Linked DNA regions of Homo sapiens. The protein of the gene in region 1 interacts with the protein of each later gene in a biochemical or structural test. Each region holds a gene or a part of one and is shown on either strand. Other genes may lie near its edges.

What was found.
Region 2: the proteins of NKX2-1 (region 1) and PAX8 form a complex in vitro, tested with the Homo sapiens proteins (one study listed by BioGRID).
Region 3: the proteins of NKX2-1 (region 1) and FOXA1 form a complex in vitro, tested with the Homo sapiens proteins (one study listed by BioGRID).

What each region holds. Positions count from the first base shown.
Region 1 is NC_000014.9:36,517,205-36,524,666, reverse strand, and holds the start of NKX2-1 (homeobox protein Nkx-2.1), read left to right. Parts: upstream 1-4,434; 5' UTR 4,435-4,537; coding exon 4,538-4,614; intron 4,615-4,987; exon of another isoform or gene 4,988-5,296; coding exon 5,297-5,682; intron 5,683-6,646; coding exon 6,647-7,389; 3' UTR 7,390-7,462. UniProt on the Homo sapiens protein: Transcription factor that binds and activates the promoter of thyroid specific genes such as thyroglobulin, thyroperoxidase, and thyrotropin receptor. Crucial in the maintenance of the thyroid differentiation phenotype.
Region 2 is NC_000002.12:113,275,917-113,283,784, forward strand, and holds the start of PAX8 (paired box protein Pax-8), read right to left. Parts: upstream 3,006-7,868; 5' UTR 2,915-3,005; intron 2,554-2,914; 5' UTR 2,479-2,553; coding exon 2,454-2,478; intron 1-2,453. UniProt on the Homo sapiens protein: Transcription factor for the thyroid-specific expression of the genes exclusively expressed in the thyroid cell type, maintaining the functional differentiation of such cells.
Region 3 is NC_000014.9:37,589,047-37,592,274, forward strand, and holds the end of FOXA1 (hepatocyte nuclear factor 3-alpha), read right to left. Parts: coding exon 2,319-3,228; 3' UTR 506-2,318; downstream 1-505. UniProt on the Homo sapiens protein: Transcription factor that is involved in embryonic development, establishment of tissue-specific gene expression and regulation of gene expression in differentiated tissues.

The sequences.
Region 1 (7,462 bases):
ATGACTTGGCGCCCCACCCCCCAGCCTGCCCACAGGCCACGAATTGAGAAAAGCTTTCCCAAAAGGAAAGTCCTCTCAAAGGCCCTAGACGGTCAAATCGGGAAAGGGAGCAGTAGAGGGATCCTTCCTCCCGCTGCGTCTGTGAAAGCCGCCTGTCTGCACGCCCCGGGCTCCCGCGGTCCCTCCCGAGGATTTCGGTTCTGGTGCCTGAGAAAGCAGCGCAGAGGGGGCCCTGCGAGACCCCTCCAGAGAAATCATCCCCCGGAGGCATTCCTCGGATCTTGGGGTTGCGGAGCAGCGCCCCCCAGCGCCCAGTTACACTCCTGCCTTCCGCTCCCTGCGCCTGGTTGCCTCGATGGCACTCGCGAGCCCAGCTCAGCCCGGCTTAGAAGCCTGTGCCTAGCTGTGGGAGACTGCGGGAGCAACTGAGGGGCCCAAGTGTTTCTTGTTGAAGGTCAGAGGCCTAGAGTCACAGTTTCTCTAAATCCAAAATACAGAATCAGAAGGAATAACTCCTTCTATTAGCGACTTTTGTGATCTACAAACTCAGGCACATGATCTCATCCTGAATTGTTTGGATCCCTAGCACAAACCAAGCCAGTACACAGGGCAGGTTGTGACCATTTTTTACAGCTCAGGAAACAGGTGCTCGGAGGCTGTGTTTCCTCAGCGTTTCTCGAGGCACTGGGGGGTTCAAAGATAGATAAAACAGGGGCTCACCCTCAAGGAGGGAAGCCAGAAAACACACACTGGTTTACTCTGGCTGTGATGGGAGTGACTCCAGGGTGTGGCGGGAGCCCACAAGAGCGGTACTGCACAGCTGGAAAAAGGCAAAGCCAGGGTTCAAACCTAGGACGGACTTCCACTCAAGGACTCCTCTCACGACCTTGGAATGCTGAGAGATCAAGAAATGGTGCAAAAACCCACACACGAATCTCCATTACAACCCTCTCTATCTCACTGGATCCTAGAGTAACATCTGTCAGAAAGTAACTACATATTATTTGGGTGATTTATTGTGAATGTGTAAGTTCCGTGTGAGTAGGAGCTGCATCTAGATTAAGTTTGAATTTTCAGGCCTTGCGTAGTCCCTGGCACAGAGCCCTAGCTGAATAAATACTGTCGAGTGAATCAAAAATTGCGATAAAACTTGGAGCAAAATAACACTACCAGGAGACAGAGTGGCTCAGCGCCCTAAACAGGTGTGGAGGACCACAAAGGGAGTTAGAAAAAGCAGTTGGGGGGTGGGGCGGTGAGACAGGTGGTTCCTCCTCACAGTTCCACCTGGTCCAAGCTACAGACCCCAAATTAGCCTTCTTTTGTATGAGCCCTCTGTTCTTGTCTCGCAAAGTGACACTGGAGGGAGAGAAAGGAGTTTCCCTGCGGCCACGCTGGTGTAAGCAAAGGCTGATGGCGATTCCGCGCATCTAGGGCCGAGCCTGGGCCTGCGCCCCCTCGGATTCCTGGCGGAGCCGCAGCCAGCGAAGCAGAGCGTGGTCGGAATAGAGGCAGCGACCGTGTGAGGTCGCGCCAGGGAAAGCTCCGCGAGGGGCCAGCGTTGGGCCCTGCCCTGCCCTGACCGCTCCCCACTGTGCCCACTCCACCCGGGAGCAAGCTAGTTGCGGGATAAAGGAATACGCGCAGACTTCGCAAAGTGCAATCGGGGTTCTTCGTATTCATGGAAAAAAAAATCACTGGTTTAGCCCGGGTCTGCCCTATTTAGGATGAGTCCAGGAGGCGGCGGAAAGAAAGGACGCTCTTCGGTCAGAGGGAGGTGTTTCGGGCCATGGGAGGGACTCTGGAGGCCTTTGCTTGGATAAGCTTGGAGATACAGATGTCCTTCTCTTCCCTACAAGGTGCGTTAGTCTCCGGGCTTATTTTCGGCAGTGCAGTGGTACTGGGGAAGAAGGCAGAGCCGCGTGTTGAGAAGGGGCTAGGGTAGTAGAGGCGCTGGAGCCTGGGCGGCAGGGCGCTGCAAAGGCCCAGGCGAGGTGGATAGAGAGCTTGCTGGTGCGCGCGAGAAGCACGCCTGCAGGCAGAGGTTGAAGCGCCGTCCCAGTTGTGTCCCAGAGTGAAGCGGGAGTCTTTGCCCGCCCCAGCCACTTCGAGCTCCACTCCAGTTCAGCTCCCAGAGTCGCCACTTGCTGCGCGGTTGTTGGGGAGGGGGTTCCTGGTCCAGAACGAGACGTGGGGGGCTGGGGGTTTCCTCGAGAACTGCAGGCCTGGTTGCCCCCGGACTGTCAGAGCCGGAGGCCGGGGAGCTGCCAGCCACGTGCGCCTGTGGCCTGCTGAGAGGTTGAAAAGCTGCCAAGGGACGAAGGCCGAGAAGACAGGACCTAGGGGCTGTGGAAGATTCACCCAACTCTTCCTTTTACTCAGGTCTTGGGACCTAAGAGGGGGTGGGGATAGTCATGATAATAACTACCGCAATCTCCAGTGCTGGCACTGAGCTGAAAAACATTCAAAGCTTTCAAAGCATTTTGATGTGCTTCATCTTACTTGAATCTCACAAAAACCTTGTGAAGATTGATCTCCATTTCTAAATGGCGTTGAGACTGGAAGAGATGTACAACATTCTACACTTGGTGTTCCTTAAACTTACAAACAACTATGAAATAATGGCGAGTGAGAGAAAGAAGCTGGGTGACTGGGAAACCCACCCCGCCTTCGCAATTAGACCCCATTCGGGACTCAGGCCCGGCCAGGTCGCGCCTGCAGACAAGGTCTGTATTCAGCGTTGCCAGTTCTCCTCTGTGGTTCGCTTAAGCCCGGCGTCGCCTCCCCTCCTTGCTTAGCCACCACAGTGATCAATGCTCAGTTCGTCGGGGCCTGAGAGCGCCCCCCAGAGAAGCCCCTGGGAAGGAAGGGCAAGGAGCCGGGCTTCGCTCTGGTCTTTCGCAACACCAGCGGCGAGCGCGTCTCCCTGCGCAAACGTAGGGTGGCCTCCCCAGCTCTGCCGTGGGGACCGCACAAAAACGCGGGCGCAGGTGGGAGGGCGGAGGGTGTCCTGAGCTTTCTTTACCCTGGTAAAGAAGGTAGGCGGTGAGAAAAGCGAATGTTATTATAGAAGTTGGCTTTGTATTGAGGGAGTAAGAGCTCTCTTCAAGGAGAGGGCTGAAATCTTTAAAAATAAATAAAACTTTCTCTACTGTAATTGCTATTAATAAAAAAAGGGAGCCCGGATGAATTAAGTAGCTCAAAACTGCCTGTTCGTCATGATCAGGAGCTCCTTCTCTACAAGGAGGGGAAAGAAAATGTGAAAACAAAAACTAAATTCAAGAAGCTCCTTGACCAGCGCGGGTGTCTTGGAGGCACCTGCCGGGGCCGGCCGGGGAGCGCTCCGCCCTCCCAGCCCCTGGCGCGCAGAGGAGACTAAAACAGCTAAGGAGAAAGCAAAACAAAAACAATGATAAAAACGTTTAAAATCCAAGGACAAAAACCGGAGTCGGTCTCAAAATCCGCGCCGTTCAGTGCTCCACTCGGTAGTCGACTCGGCTGCAGGCCCCGGCCTGGCCGGAGCAACGCGGGGGACACCCCCGATTCCGCTGGGGAGCGCAGCCCACAGCTCCCCCTCGCCAGGCGCCCAAGGACCCTCAAGGCGCGGGGCCCACACTTGAAGCCTGGGAACGCGCAGACAGGAAACCCTCTTCCTCCTAAGCAGTTTCTTGCTCGTCGGATGAGAGGCGCCCAATTGAAGCAGAATGATCCTCATCTACTAATATCCAGCGTGGCCACAAAGCGACTGGCCATTTACGCCACCACTTTAAACAAAGATATTTGGTTATTCCCGGGAAGCAAGAGCACTTTTGCATGGCTGAGCTGCGGGCGGAGGCGAGCCTCGGCCCAGCCTCCCGCCCGCTGAGCTGCCCGCACCTCGGCATTCGCCCCCTCCTGGCCAGCGCTCCAGCCGCCGGGGTTCAGGCTCAGTTCCGCCCGGCAACAGACAGACGGGCACTCACGCCGCTCCCTGCTCGCGCGCTCCCTGAAGCATCAGAGGGGAAAACAGCGTGGCTCTGGGCTCGGGTGCTGGGGCTGTGATGTCCTCGGAAAGTCAGCTCCAGCCCCAGATCCCCGCGTGTCTGGGAGATGGGCGAGGGTCAGGGACACCAGGTTTGTTCGAGGTGGGGCAACTTCAGTGACGGACCCTCCCGTGAGACCCCTTCCCATCCTCCCAGCTCTGGGGGCCAGTGCTGTGTTTGCTCGGCCGGGGGTGGGGGGGGGGGGGGAAGACCTTGGGGGAGGCGTGTTAGCGGGGGTGGCCCACTGAAAAACCCCTGAGCTGCGGGGGCGGGTTGTGGCTCGGGGATCCGGGACAGCCTCCGGGAGGCAGTCGATCCCCTACTCAGCGCCCCCTCCGCCCGCTCGGATTCTCTCCGGTAGGGGGAAAGGGGGCGGGGAGCAGAGGTGTCCCTCTGACGGCGGCAGAAGAGAGGCAGACAGACTGACAGACACGTAGACCAACAGTGCGGCCCCAGGGTTCGTCCCCAGACTCGCTCGCTCATTTGTTGGCGACTGGGGCTCAGCGCAGCGAAGCCCGATGTGGTCCGGAGGCAGTGGGAAGGCGCGGGGCTGGGAGGCCGCGGCGGGAGGGAGGAGCAGCCCCGGCAGGCTCAGGTGAAACCCCCACCCTGTCCCTCAGCCCCCTCCTCCTAAAGACCTGTCCGTGCCCGGGGAACCCCGACCGAATTGGAAAGTGGTTCCACTTTGTAACTCCGCAAGTTGGTTGCAAAGCAGCATTCACCTTCCTTCCTCTCAACCATCTCTCCTCCTCTGTTACTCCCCCACCCCACCTCCTGCCCTCCCCGCTCTCGGTTCCCTCCTCCTTCCCCTCCCCTCCACCTCCTCCCCGCGCTCCGCTGGTACCCCACAAAAAATGGGGGTGGGGGTGTCCAAGGGAGGGGGGAAATGCTTTGGGTCTCGTCTCTGCCTCTCTCTCTCTCTCTTTGAGACCTAAAAATCCTGACAAGTGAAACTTAAAGGTGTTTACCTTGTCATCAGCATGTAAGCTAATTATCTCGGGCAAGATGTAGGCTTCTATTGTCTTGTTGCTTTAGCGCTTACGCCCCGCCTCTGGTGGCTGCCTAAAACCTGGCGCCGGGCTAAAACAAACGCGAGGCAGCCCCCGAGCCTCCACTCAAGCCAATTAAGGAGGACTCGGTCCACTCCGTTACGTGTACATCCAACAAGATCGGCGTTAAGGTAACACCAGAATATTTGGCAAAGGGAGAAAAAAAAAGCAGCGAGGCTTCGCCTTCCCCCTCTCCCTTTTTTTTCCTCCTCTTCCTTCCTCCTCCAGCCGCCGCCGAATCATGTCGATGAGTCCAAAGCACACGACTCCGTTCTCAGTGTCTGACATCTTGAGTCCCCTGGAGGAAAGCTACAAGAAAGTGGGCATGGAGGGCGGCGGCCTCGGGGCTCCGCTGGCGGCGTACAGGCAGGGCCAGGCGGCACCGCCAACAGCGGCCATGCAGCAGCACGCCGTGGGGCACCACGGCGCCGTCACCGCCGCCTACCACATGACGGCGGCGGGGGTGCCCCAGCTCTCGCACTCCGCCGTGGGGGGCTACTGCAACGGCAACCTGGGCAACATGAGCGAGCTGCCGCCGTACCAGGACACCATGAGGAACAGCGCCTCTGGCCCCGGATGGTACGGCGCCAACCCAGACCCGCGCTTCCCCGCCAGTAAGTGAGGCCGCCCCACTGCGGGGCCGCGGGCTGAGCTCAGGAGGTGCGGCGAGAGCCGTCCAGAAGGCGCGGCGCCGGCAGGCTGCGCGCTGGGCATCAGGGAGGGCGGCCCGGCAGCGGCGCCAGGGACTTGGGTGCGGGAGCTGGGGATGCTTCCCCCTGCTCGGCTGGGGGTCCAAGAACAGGCACTTGGTAGCGCTGGGGTCCTGCGGTCAGATGCGGGTACTCGGCGTCTCCTAGGCGCGGTGGACTGGCAGCTCTGCTCGGCGCAGAAGACCTCGGGGAGCCAAGGGAAGCGACCCCGAGCTCAAGGAGCAGGGGCGAGCAGAGCGCGGAGAGGCTAGACCGGGCCAGGAGGGAGGCTGCCCTGTTGGGAGGCACTCGAGCGCCCGGCCCGGCCCTCTCTCCAGCGGAGTCTGGGCAGGTGGGAGGACTCGCAGTTCCAGAGGGGACTCTAAGGGTCCGAGCAGGTGCCCTCACTGGGGCCTGACAGGAGAGAAGCCAAGAGGCAAAGCGTCTGGGGGCTCCAGCTTTTGGAAGTCAACACCCCCTCTCCTAACCTCTCCAAACTGGGGTCTACCGTAGGACCCCAGCTCCCGGCCTGAGCCCAGTTCGCCGCCTGTGGCCAGCTAATCCTAATGCTCTGACCCGGGCTGGGCACGAAAGGAGCAGAAGCGGCCTTTCCCCCACTGCGTCTTTTGGTTCGAAAGAGGGAACTGAGACTGAGGGAGGGCAGCCAGGGTTGGGGCTGTGAGCGCTCCAGTACAGCCCCCTCGACGGTACGGCCTGGGGCAGGCGCTGGCAGTTCCCCGCGGATGGGCCTCTTGGGCCCCAGCGCTAGGCTGCCTGGGTCAGGAGGGCGCCGTCGGTTGGGGCGGGCCGGGCGGGCCAATGGCGCGGAAAACAGGGGTGGCCTGGCTCGGCCTGGCCCCGGCCGACGCTGTGCGTTTGTCGCTTACAGTCTCCCGCTTCATGGGCCCGGCGAGCGGCATGAACATGAGCGGCATGGGCGGCCTGGGCTCGCTGGGGGACGTGAGCAAGAACATGGCCCCGCTGCCAAGCGCGCCGCGCAGGAAGCGCCGGGTGCTCTTCTCGCAGGCGCAGGTGTACGAGCTGGAGCGACGCTTCAAGCAACAGAAGTACCTGTCGGCGCCGGAGCGCGAGCACCTGGCCAGCATGATCCACCTGACGCCCACGCAGGTCAAGATCTGGTTCCAGAACCACCGCTACAAAATGAAGCGCCAGGCCAAGGACAAGGCGGCGCAGCAGCAACTGCAGCAGGACAGCGGCGGCGGCGGGGGCGGCGGGGGCACCGGGTGCCCGCAGCAGCAACAGGCTCAGCAGCAGTCGCCGCGACGCGTGGCGGTGCCGGTCCTGGTGAAAGACGGCAAACCGTGCCAGGCGGGTGCCCCCGCGCCGGGCGCCGCCAGCCTACAAGGCCACGCGCAGCAGCAGGCGCAGCACCAGGCGCAGGCCGCGCAGGCGGCGGCAGCGGCCATCTCCGTGGGCAGCGGTGGCGCCGGCCTTGGCGCACACCCGGGCCACCAGCCAGGCAGCGCAGGCCAGTCTCCGGACCTGGCGCACCACGCCGCCAGCCCCGCGGCGCTGCAGGGCCAGGTATCCAGCCTGTCCCACCTGAACTCCTCGGGCTCGGACTACGGCACCATGTCCTGCTCCACCTTGCTATACGGTCGGACCTGGTGAGAGGACGCCGGGCCGGCCCTAGCCCAGCGCTCTGCCTCACCGCTTCCCTCCTGCCCGCCACACAGACCACCAT
Region 2 (7,868 bases), on another chromosome or scaffold:
GCGACCCCGTGGCAGGCTGGGCGGCGGAGGCCGCGCGGGGAGGTTTTCTCGAGCGTCCCCGGTTATTGGGAAGGGTGCGCTCGGCCTCGCTCCCGCGGAAAGCCGTGTGGCCGCCTGCGTCCCGGGCTCTGCTCACAGAAAACTCAAGGGGAGCTCCCTAAGCACGGCCGGTCTCAGGAACAGAGGTGCCTGGGGAAAAGGGGGAACCTGCTAAAACCCGAGAGATAATGGGCTTGTAAAAACCAGAGGGGTCCGCTTATGAGTTTAGCTCCGGTTATAGACAACAGTGTCAGGTAAGCTGATCAGAAAGACAGACGGCCTCTCCCTCAGGTTTGCCGAGGGAGGGTTCAGAAAAGAAACAGGGAGCGCCTTCAGCAGTCTATGCGGTTATAGGCCATTTTCTTGTTTTATTAGCGTTTAAATTAAACTATGAGAAGAAAGTCTCATCTTCCCTCCCTCGCCACTTTGTCTATTTGTTTTGGAAAGAGGGTAGAAGAAGCCCCTCTGTCTTCCCGAAAAGAAGAAAGGGGAAAAAAATTACCTGGTAGGTCCAGGGGCAGAGGGCTCCCTCCCAAAACCCAAGCGCGATTTGCATCCAAGCTAGTGGGAAAGCGCGCATCTCATCATCTGGGACTGTTCCTGATTAAAACTACAGTAAAAATAAATTGTGCCTTTATTTATTCTTTCCATACTCTATTTCCATCTATTCTAACGAGTACTTCTAGAATGAAAATAAGTAGCCGCGAAAAAAAAAAAAAGCTCATCTGAGGGACGGGGACATCGTCTCATTTCTTGGGCAGCGGCAGAGAGTAAGGGTCCAGCCCGGCCACAGTGAATTTGATTTCCGAGAGCACTCACTCCTCCTGCCACCGCCGGAAGGGTCAGGGGAAGGTTAGGAGGAAAGATGGACCTCCAGAGCCGAGCAGAAGTGCCATTGCACCAGCTTGGCGCAGAAGTGCCATTGCACCAGCTTGGCATGGGCACCGGGCACTGCACATTAGGCCTCAGGGATGGTCCTGGCGATGTCTGGTATCGTACCACGGTTTGGCTAAAGATTAAGGGACTAAAACCTGATCCTGACCTTAGATAGTGGCCTAGGAGCGCTCGTGGTTCCAGGACGCGGACCGTAAAGAGGTGCCAGGGAGCTCTGCTCGGTCCCAGGGCTCCCCAACCCCGCCGCGCCGGGGAATGGCTGCGAGGTCTCTCCCCTGAGGACCTTGAAGGGACCCCGCGCCTTCTGGGGGCAGCCGGACGATTCTGGCCCAGGTCTCTGAGGGGAATGGGGGCCGGGAGGGAGCATTCGTCTGCAGCTCTAGAGAGAACCCGAGTGAGAAATCTTCCGGCGCCCCAGGGGGTTCCCGCTCCCCTCCTAGTTGGGCCATGGCCCTGGGACTGGAGACTGCGCCGCAGAGCCCGGGCCCCCGCAGTGCGCTTGGCTAAATAGAGATCTCAGCCTCGCTGCGCGCCCGATCCGACCCTCCTTATTATAACAAATGTCCCGTTTGCAGAGCGGGACATCATATTCGCGGAGAATTCATTCTGAAATATTGATTTCCTCTCACTTCGCCGGCCCAAATCGATAGCGATGCGCCCTGGCCCCATAAATCGCCTTCTCTGCGGCCGGCCGGGCTCCATCCATCACTGCGGGCCGCGCTGCGCCTCCACCGCTGTCCGCACTCGCTGCGCGCCGGGACGGCTGCGCCCACCAGCCCTGACCCTGGAGCTCCTTCCCAGCAAAGACCCTGCCCAGCCCTGGCCGGGAAGGGGGAAAACAGGCATCGCGGCCTGGGAGCTCGAGTGTGTTTGAAGGCCCTGCTTCCGGGCGCAGGTGGGGAGGGGGTTTTGACTCCGCGAGCGGCTTAGTCCTCACCAGCCGGACGCCCCGCGCGCGGCGCCCGGCCTGCCCGGTGCTGGGCCAGGAGGAGTCGGAGAGCACCTGAGTGCGCTGCCGGCTCCCGGGCCCGGGACCACCGGCTCCATTGCCGTTGGCTTGAGAGATGCGGGGAGCTCACAGTCCAGCCAGGGGAGTCACTGGGAAGGACTGCGCGCACCCGAGGAAGAGGACTTAGAGGTCGGGGACGGGGAAACGGCAAGTCCAGCACCGGTGCAGCCCAGGGACAGAGCACGAAGAATGTCCACACTAATGCGCCATGCAAGGCTGGGAATGGAGCTCAAAGGAAACCCCCTCTAACTCCACAGAGATCCCCTCACCGATCCATGTGGTCCCTCGAAACCGGGCAAGGGCGGCTCAGCTGGCCGGGTGGAACCCCAGTGCCCGAGAACAGCGAGGCGGCTCCAGCGGAGGGCCAGGCCCCAGGCGCCCCAGCTGGGTCCCCACGCGGGTGGGTCCCGCGAATCCCGTGCTGACGCTCTCGAGATCCAACCACCCGAGCGCACGCACGGACGCTCAGCGGCGCGGGGGCTCGGGGATCCTGACCACACCGCGTTCTTACCAGATCTGATGGAGTTGTGAGGCATCGCCGGGGAGTCGCTCGCAGCCCGCCGAGGGCTCGGGGCTTCCTCCCGTAGGTCCGGGCCGCGCCTGCCGCTGCCCTGCACAAACCCAGGAGAAGGGCATGAGATGCGATGAGATTCGATGCCTGCATCCTCAGGCCCCCTCCCCAGGCCTCATCCTTTACACCTGCATCGTCTGCCAGGAGTAGGAGGATTTTTAGGCGAAGTAGGGCCAACCTCAGCCTAGCCTAGCTAACAGGCTTCCCGGGAGGATCAAGGATTGGGAGTGCGCTGAAGAAGCTCCAGACTCCAACCTCCGTGCCCACTCCCTCCGCTGTCCCAGTCTTATCCCGTTTAACTTGGGAGGGAAAAGGCTGCCAGGCATCCTGGGACCCTCTCCTTTCTTCCATCCCCCGTCCTCACTGCTAGCCAGCTTCCAGCTAACCCCTGGGTGACATACCTGGCCGGCCGGCTGCAGGCCCTCACTGCTTGGGTCCGCCCGCGAGGGTGCCCTGGGCCCGGTGTCTCTCCTCCTTCTGAAGTTTGTTCCCATCCACCCGGCATCACCGACCGGTTTTATCCCGCTGAGGCCCTGGGAGATGGGTCTGGCGAGGCTCGTAGGCCGCGGATTGGCTGGCTGGGTGCAGGGGGGTGCGGGAAGGGGAGGATTTTGCAAGGGGGACATGGCTGAGTGGACTCAGGAGTTAGAAACATTCGCTGGGAGCTTCTGTTTCCAGCGGAGGGAAGAGGGAGGCAGCTGAGCCCTAACTCAGCAGGCCTGGAAATATTGGAGGAGTGGGGAACAGAGGCCTAGGAGCCTGAGGATGAGGTTCTCTGGGTCCTCCTGGGTCACTGACCACCAGAAGTGAGAGGGATGGTCTCTGTAGGATGCCCTCCTTGCCCCCTGTCTCCCCTGGTTTGCTCACCAGGAAGCAGCCTTTTCTTTTGTAAAAGGAAGGAGGGAACTTCTGTTTTATGCCTGATTCTTTAGGTAGAGCCTGCTTTCGGGGCTGTAGGCAAGATGCTATTACCTTCTCACCACAGCTATGACCTCTTCCAGGGAAGAATCCTGAGCAGCACCTGAAGCCATTCCCTCTGTTCTACACAGATAGCGTTCACACCCTTGCATTGTCAGGCTAACAAAATTGTCACATAACCCATTCCACAGCAACTCCTCGCCTCTCTCCTCTGGAACACACACGCAGCCACCTGCCCTCTTTCTTGCTCCTTGAGGATTTTGAACTTGGAAGAAGAGTTCAGGGGAAGGGCATTGAGGGCCTAGACTTCATCTCTGTGTGGAAAGGCCTTAGAAAGGAACAGGACTGAGCTGACCTCTGGCCTGGTCTGTAGGAATCAATAGCCTCAGCAATATGGGGGCCTGGGTGTGGTTAAGAAGGGGTCCACTGGTGGGAATGATGGCAGGGTTGGTGAGCCCTGGGACCGAGCAGAGCTGCCTGGCACCTCTTTACCTTAGTGATGGCAAAAGCTGCCCCCTCCTTCCTCATAGTTCTCTCAGTCGGGGAACCGGGGTACACGTAAGATTGTGAGTGGGTATGAGTGAGCAAATGTCCTGGAACACTGGCAGGCCTGGGGGTCAAGGCCTGGATGCTCCTCCAATCTTTGGCCAGACCTCTGGACTCAGGATTACAGTCTAGAGGACAGCCATGCCCTTTTCAGTGATGGCTCTGCAGGCCTGGTGGGGTTGTTCTGGGACAGGAGGCTAAGAAGCCAGTGGGAGGGGGGCAAGGAAGGTGCAGGGGAAACTGGGATATTCAGGGGGATTGGATGTGTGTGTGTGTGTGTGTGTGTGTGTGTGTATGCACATATGTACACGTGTGTGAAAACACATGAACTATTTTTCTGAATTAAAAAAGTTTTCTCTTTCATGTCAATCCACAACCTCCTTCCACCCAGTCTTTCTCATTTCTCAATTTAGGAGAAATGAATCATCTTGTGAAAAAAGAGAGAAGAAGATGTGTATCCCTACATGTTTCCTCCACATTTGCAAAGAGGGGCTGTAAACAAAAATAGTTGGTGCTTCATCATTTTAAATCTTTCTCTAAAATTGTAATTTTAAATATCTCTGTGGTTTTCAAAGCTCCAGATCCCTAACTTCTCTGGCAGTCCCTCCCAGAGAGAGACAATCCAAGGGTGTTGGGATGGAAATGGATCTTGGCATAGGTCCTCCGGACCCCATGGGCCAGTTTGCTGCCCTGGATTGTGTCCTGCTGCAGGGGAGGTGTGGAGTGTGGCAGCCACAGCAGAAACTCTCTTTGTCCACCCAGGATTCCCTCCCACCAGGGAGGCAATGCTCCAGGGTGAATCTAATACGCCCTCATTTCAAACAGCTCTGACAACCTTAGAGATTCTACCCAATCTAAGGTTCTGATACGTACCAATAACCATTGACTCTCATGCAATCATTCTTGCCTGTGCACATCTTTTCTGCCCAAGCAATGAACCCTCTCCCTTTCCTATCCCCTTTTTGGGCAAAATTTCTTAGAGGACAAATCCAGCAAGTTATCAGAACATTCCTGTCCCATGTATAAATTTATCTTTAAAATTTCATTTCAAGGTAAAAACAATGTGCACTGTTCAAGGTTACTCCTCAGGGAAAAACACACCCCACACCTTGACAGTACCTCTTCTCCAGACTGCAGGTGACATAGCAGGTGACCAGAAGACTCAGCAGAGAAGATCTAGGACGAGCAAGAAGTGAGAATGCAGTGAACTTCTGCTGCAGAGATAAACACAGGCCTCCTGGACTGACCCTGCTTCTAATTAGAATCAGAAATCAGGCCTGGGTTCCTTGGTACTTCCTAATTCTCTGAGACCAAGGCCAAGGAAATGTCATTAACTGGTGCTTTAACTCTGTCTCTTTGGCATCAGTCTCCTCCTCTGCAAAACGAAAGGTTTGAAATACATATATTTTTAAAATCACCTATTATCACAGTATTTTTTCAAACTTAAAATCCATGATGCTTTTAGTTAAGAATAAAAATCATATGCCTTCCTATGATGATATTTGAAATTTTAAAATAAATTTGCACTGTGACTAATAGACTTTCAATGGGACTTTTAGAACTCTTTTTTTTTTCTTCTAGACTTAGTCTCACTCTGTCACCCAGGCTGGAGTGCGGTGGCATGATCTCGGCTCACTACAACCTCCACCTCCTGGGTTCAAGTGATTCTCCTGCCTCAGCCTCCCGACTAGCTGGGGCTACAGGTATGCATCATCATGCCTGACTAATTTTTTATATTTTGGTAGAGACGGGGTTTCACCACATTGGCCAGGCTGGTCTCGAACTCCAGACCTCAAGTGATCCGCCTGCCTCAGCCTCCCAAAGTGCTGGGATCACAGGCATGAGCCACTGTGCCTGGCCAGGCCTTAGAACTCACTTTTTAAAATGAATACCTCATTTGCCAACTTTTCTTCTCAGGCTTGAGGCCCATAAGGCTTTTGTGGCAATATTATCAACTGGCAACTAGTTATAATTTTTTTAAACTCAGTGTTTTTTTGAGAAAATGTAATTCATTGCCAATATCAAAATACAGAAGTAGAGACGAGAGACTAACTCTGCCTTGCCTTTGAAAATGCAAGAGATCTGGCCGCAGATCTGAGCGTTTCTTTGTGGAAATGAACATTCTTTCAGGTTTAACATTCCAACAATCCTAGGTAATTGCCTAACTACAGTGGTTTTTGAATTTGCATAATATCCCACAATTTGTTTAATTCTATGCTGATCTGCTGAGCCTTCAAAAGATGTTCTTTCTTTTCTGGACTCAGCTGTAATGCACTGGGCTGGTGGTAGGGTAATAAAGTGCCCTGGTTTGCCCTGGACGAAAACCAACAGTGTTTTCTAGATGCGAGTTAAAACTGGGACTTTCCCGGGCAAATCAGGATGAATTGGTCATCCTAGCTGATTAGAGTGTGGGAGTGGGATGGTTTGGGGGTCTTTTATAAGCTGCCGTGTTTCAACTGACTATTGGGTGGGTGATTGTTTGCACACTTGGGTCATTCTACCTGCTGGCTCAGGTGACTGAGACCCTTGAACTCCAGTAGGTCCATGAGCTCTTCCTCTTACTCCTATGTACCCTGGTTTCTCTGGGCACAATGCCCAGAGACCAGCCTCGAGGGAAGACCACTGCTCCCAACAATCCTCCTGGCTTACTTGCCACCATGCCACTTCCCCTACGTAACGAACCATTGTTGGGACTAAAGTACATCCCTTCAGGAAGAAAACAGCAGCTCTCTACTTTGCATCAGAGGTGAGTGTTCCAGCCCTAATTGTGTAGAATGGGATGATTTCTTCTGCCCGAACCTCAGTTTCCCCTTCTGCATGATGTGGATATAGACGGGGGGCTGGGGAGGGTCAGACCCACCTCGTAGCTTTGTTGTGAGGACGAATAAAATTATGAATGTGAAGGCCCTTTGAAAACTACACCTCTGTACAAAAGTTAATTATTATTAGACAACAAAGGCAGAGGAATACATCCAAAGAGGGCAAAGTTAAAATGTCCCTAAAGTTTTGCTGTGGAAGTCGGTTCCTTTAATCCTTTCCCAAAGGAGCCTTGGAGAGGAAAGGGCCAGTGAGCCCGTGCCTGTGGGTGCAGGCGTGGGTGCAAGGGTAGCAGTGGGGCAGGGGTGTCTGTGAGGGCAGCAATTAACATTCGTTGACCCAGAGAGAGGGGAGAGTCAATGGCAGAAGGCCAGCACCCCAGCAGAACTTCCAGCAGCGACTTCATCATTTTGCAGAGGGCAGAAGTGTTCAGGGCACTGGCAGTTTTCGCTCCACCCTCTCCCCTCACAGACTTGCCCAATCCTGCCGAAGCCACGTGGGATTTCAACCCTGTCCCTGCACTCAGGAAATGGCCGACAGCCTGCCCTGGGGCCTCCTGGTGGCAGTGCCTGAAAATCAATCATTAATTATTCCAGGTTCTCCACCTCCCTAGGCTTTGAAAACTCAGAAATAGAAATATAGGTCCTGGCAGGTGAAAGGAAAAGAGCCACTGGTTGGGCTGCCGAGGGCAGTTTGGAAGAAACCACTGGTGGCATTTGTCCAGTTGGTTTGGGTAGGGATGTGTCCTGGGCACTTGTCCCTTGGGCTCTTTGCCCACCCCACAGCCTTTGGCAGCAGTTGCCTGGGCTTCTGGAAGGAGACCCTGGTACTTACAAATGGGTGGAAAAAAAACTTCCTGGGGACACAAAAAGGAAGGTGACAGAGGGAGATAAAAGGATTGACGTACACAGCTCAATTTTTTTCTCTAGTAATCATAGTTTTTTTTTTTTTTTTTTTTAAGTTAGAAAAAATGAGCTAGACCCTTTTGGCAACCCATCTTGCAGATGAGGAAACTGGATTCTAGGGAAGGTAAGTAGAGAGCAAGGCCACCCAGCTAGCAGACAGCCAACTAGG
Region 3 (3,228 bases), 1.1 Mb from region 1:
AGCGACTCACACGGCTCTTTTTATCTTGTCCGCGGTGTGGAGTGGGGCGATCAAAGTAAAGGCTGTCCAAGTTCAAGCCCTGGTGAGGATGGAGTTCATACACAAGGGCTCAGGCAGGCAGGCCTCTGCTTGAGCTGGTGTTGTTATTGTTGATGTCAATCCGAACAAGACTTACAAAGAAATAGGTGGACTGGAAAGTGAGCCTGCTATCAAAGGAGATTAATGATTTTGTGATCCCAAGCAACTATGGAGTGTGAAGTTGCATTTAAAAGCTCCTTAGAAGGAAACAAATTATCAACTTTAAGTTCTTAGGAACGACATTTTTGAATCAAAATTTAAAACAATCTTCACAAAATGCAAAATAGCGGCTACCCTAAAATGTCCTGTCGGTACAACGCTTCCCCTGCGAGAGTGAATTAACTCCCCTCCTCCCACCTCCTCCAGAGCTACCCTGATGGCTAAGTTTCGTTTCTCTTTTAATGAGAAGAGAGTTCATGAGTCTCCGTTGGACACAACTTAATTCTATCAGCCACAGCTGATATTTTATTTTCATTGGAAGAATTCTCAGATAAAGAAAAGTGATACATTGGGGAAGGAGGAAAGGTAGTTAAATTAATATTTGATTTTGTAGTGAAAAGGCTCAAAGGAAACACAGAAGGCTTAAGCCGGTGTCAAAAAAAAAAAAAAAAATGAAGTAAACATCACTGGGAATAAAGAATCTTAAAAATCTCAACTCTTGGAATATTAAATCAACTTATACACTTTACTTGAATTTCTTTCACTCCTTTTTACTAGCTACACATTCATTATAACAACAGACAAAACAATTTTATTTTCATTTTTGTCATTTATATTCAGTTCTAGAATTTGAAAAATATCGTATTCAGAAATATTCACTTCGGATTTAGTTAAGTGAAAAAAAATAACAGAAATGCTCTTTTGTTAACATTTGATTTATTTAAAGTCCTTAACTGCAAATGATCAAGAACATTTTCCACGGCTTAAAATCTGGTATTATTTTTGTTATTTAAATCAAAATATTTTTAATTACAATCACATTGATAAAAATTAACAATTTAATTTGTAATTTTAACCATCATTTAAAGCAATTTCAGCTGTAAAGAAAAAGAATAAACCATGCAATAAATTAACATTGAGAAAGCAAAGAGAAATAATAATGAAACCCGTCTGGCTATACTAACACCATGTCCAACTGTGGAAAGTGCATAACACTGGATGAAACAAGCACACGATGGCAATGATTAAAATGGCCACTATCAATAGGATTTTTGAATCTTGGACCACGTTTTGAAATCCAGCTCCCTATAACTTATCTCTCCTCCAACATTGTAATATTCCCTTTTACTGAAAAAAAAATTCTTTAAATGGTATACACTCATAGAAACTAATTTTATGTGTTATGTGACCTCAGAATGACATGACCATGGCACTCTGCAAAGCAAGAAGCAGAGTTCTTGAGGGCAATTCCTGAGGAATTGATTCCCAGGGCCATCTGTGGGTAGAGAGGACAAAGGGGTTGGGGTCCTTGTAACTTTCGGTCAAGCAACTCTTGAGAATGTATCATGTATATCACCTATCTATTACCTCTATATGTTATGTAAATATACGGAGGATGTCTACACATCTGAGCATGTGCATAATTAAGTCCATACACAATATACATGTATTTCATTTAAAGACATCTGCTATCTGCATGTATCAGAAATGTAAACTGAGAAGCAAATGGCTCTGATGTTTATAATCTGTTTATGTCTTGCTATATAACAGCAGTATTGTCTTTCAATACTTTTAAGAGCCTCTAGTGTATACTTGTTTCTTCACCATTTCAATTCTTATGGTTAAGAGTATTGCCACAGACCTGTAAACTCGTAGGGGGTCAGGTAAGGAGGGGGAAAAAGCACAAACAAATATTTTACAAACTTGACCATCTTCCTTTTTTGTTTTTTTAAATAACCCTCCACAAACTAGAATGTCTGGAGGGGAAAGAGGGAAGAAAGAGAGGGGGGCAAGGAAGGAGGAGAATTTCATATATACACTTGTGGATCATTAAACTTCGCAGGAAAAAAATTGGTTTGGGGTTGTCTTTGTAGTAATATACACAATGAATTTTGAATACAATAATAAAGTAACAGTCTTTTGCACTGGGGGAAAGGTTGTGCATGAAAAATGAAATAAAAATAGTTGTTGGGATTTTATTATGCTGTTGACGGTTTGGTTTGTGTGGTTTTGTTTGCTGTTGATTTTTTCTCTCTTGCTACCAGCATGGCTATGCCAGACAAACCCCCCAGTCCCGGGAGCTAGGAAGTGTTTAGGACGGGTCTGGAATACACACCTTGGTAGTACGCCGGCTCCAGGGCTGAGGGCTCGATGGGGCTCCTGGTGGTCACCGAGGCGCTGCCTAGAGGCAGGCTGGCGGGCAACGTAGAGCCGTAAGGCGAGTATTGCAGTGCCTGTTCGTATGCCTTGAAGTCCAGCTTATGCTGCTGCTCCGAGGAGGACATGAGGTTGTTGATGGAGAACGGGTGGTTGAAGGAGTAGTGGGGGTCCCCTTTCAGGTGCAGCTGGGACTCGTGGGGTGCCAAGCCGTGTGCCGGGTGAGAGGCGGGCACAGAGGCCAGCGCCCCGGGCCCGGAGCTTATGGGGGGCGCAGTTGAGGAGGCTGGAGTCTTCAACTCCGAGGCGCCCCCTGTCGCCGTCGCCCCACTGTGGTCCAGAGTCTGGGGGCTGGCGGCGGGCCCGGGGGCCGGCGCGCCCTCTAGCTGGCCGGTCTTCCCGTGCACACCCCGATGGAGGGGCGAGTCGGCGCTGGGGTTAGAGGCGCCAGAGGGGTCCTTGCGGCTCTCAGGGCCGCCCTTGGCGCCGCTGCCCCCGCTTCCGCTCCCGCCCCCGCCGCCGGCCCCCGGCTGCTTCTCGCACTTGAAGCGCTTCTGGCGGCGCAAGTAGCAGCCGTTCTCGAACATGTTGCCGGAGTCCGGGTGCAGCGTCCAGTAGGAGCCCTTGCCCGGCTTGTCCGGGGAGCGTGCCACCTTGACGAAGCAGTCATTGAAGGACAGCGAGTGGCGGATGGAGTTCTGCCAGCGCTGCTGGTTCTGCCGGTAATAGGGGAAGAGGTCCATGATCCACTGGTAGATCTCGCTCAGCGTGAGCATCTTGCTGGGCGCCTGCTGGATGGCCATGGTGATGAGCGAGATGTACGAGTAGGGCGGC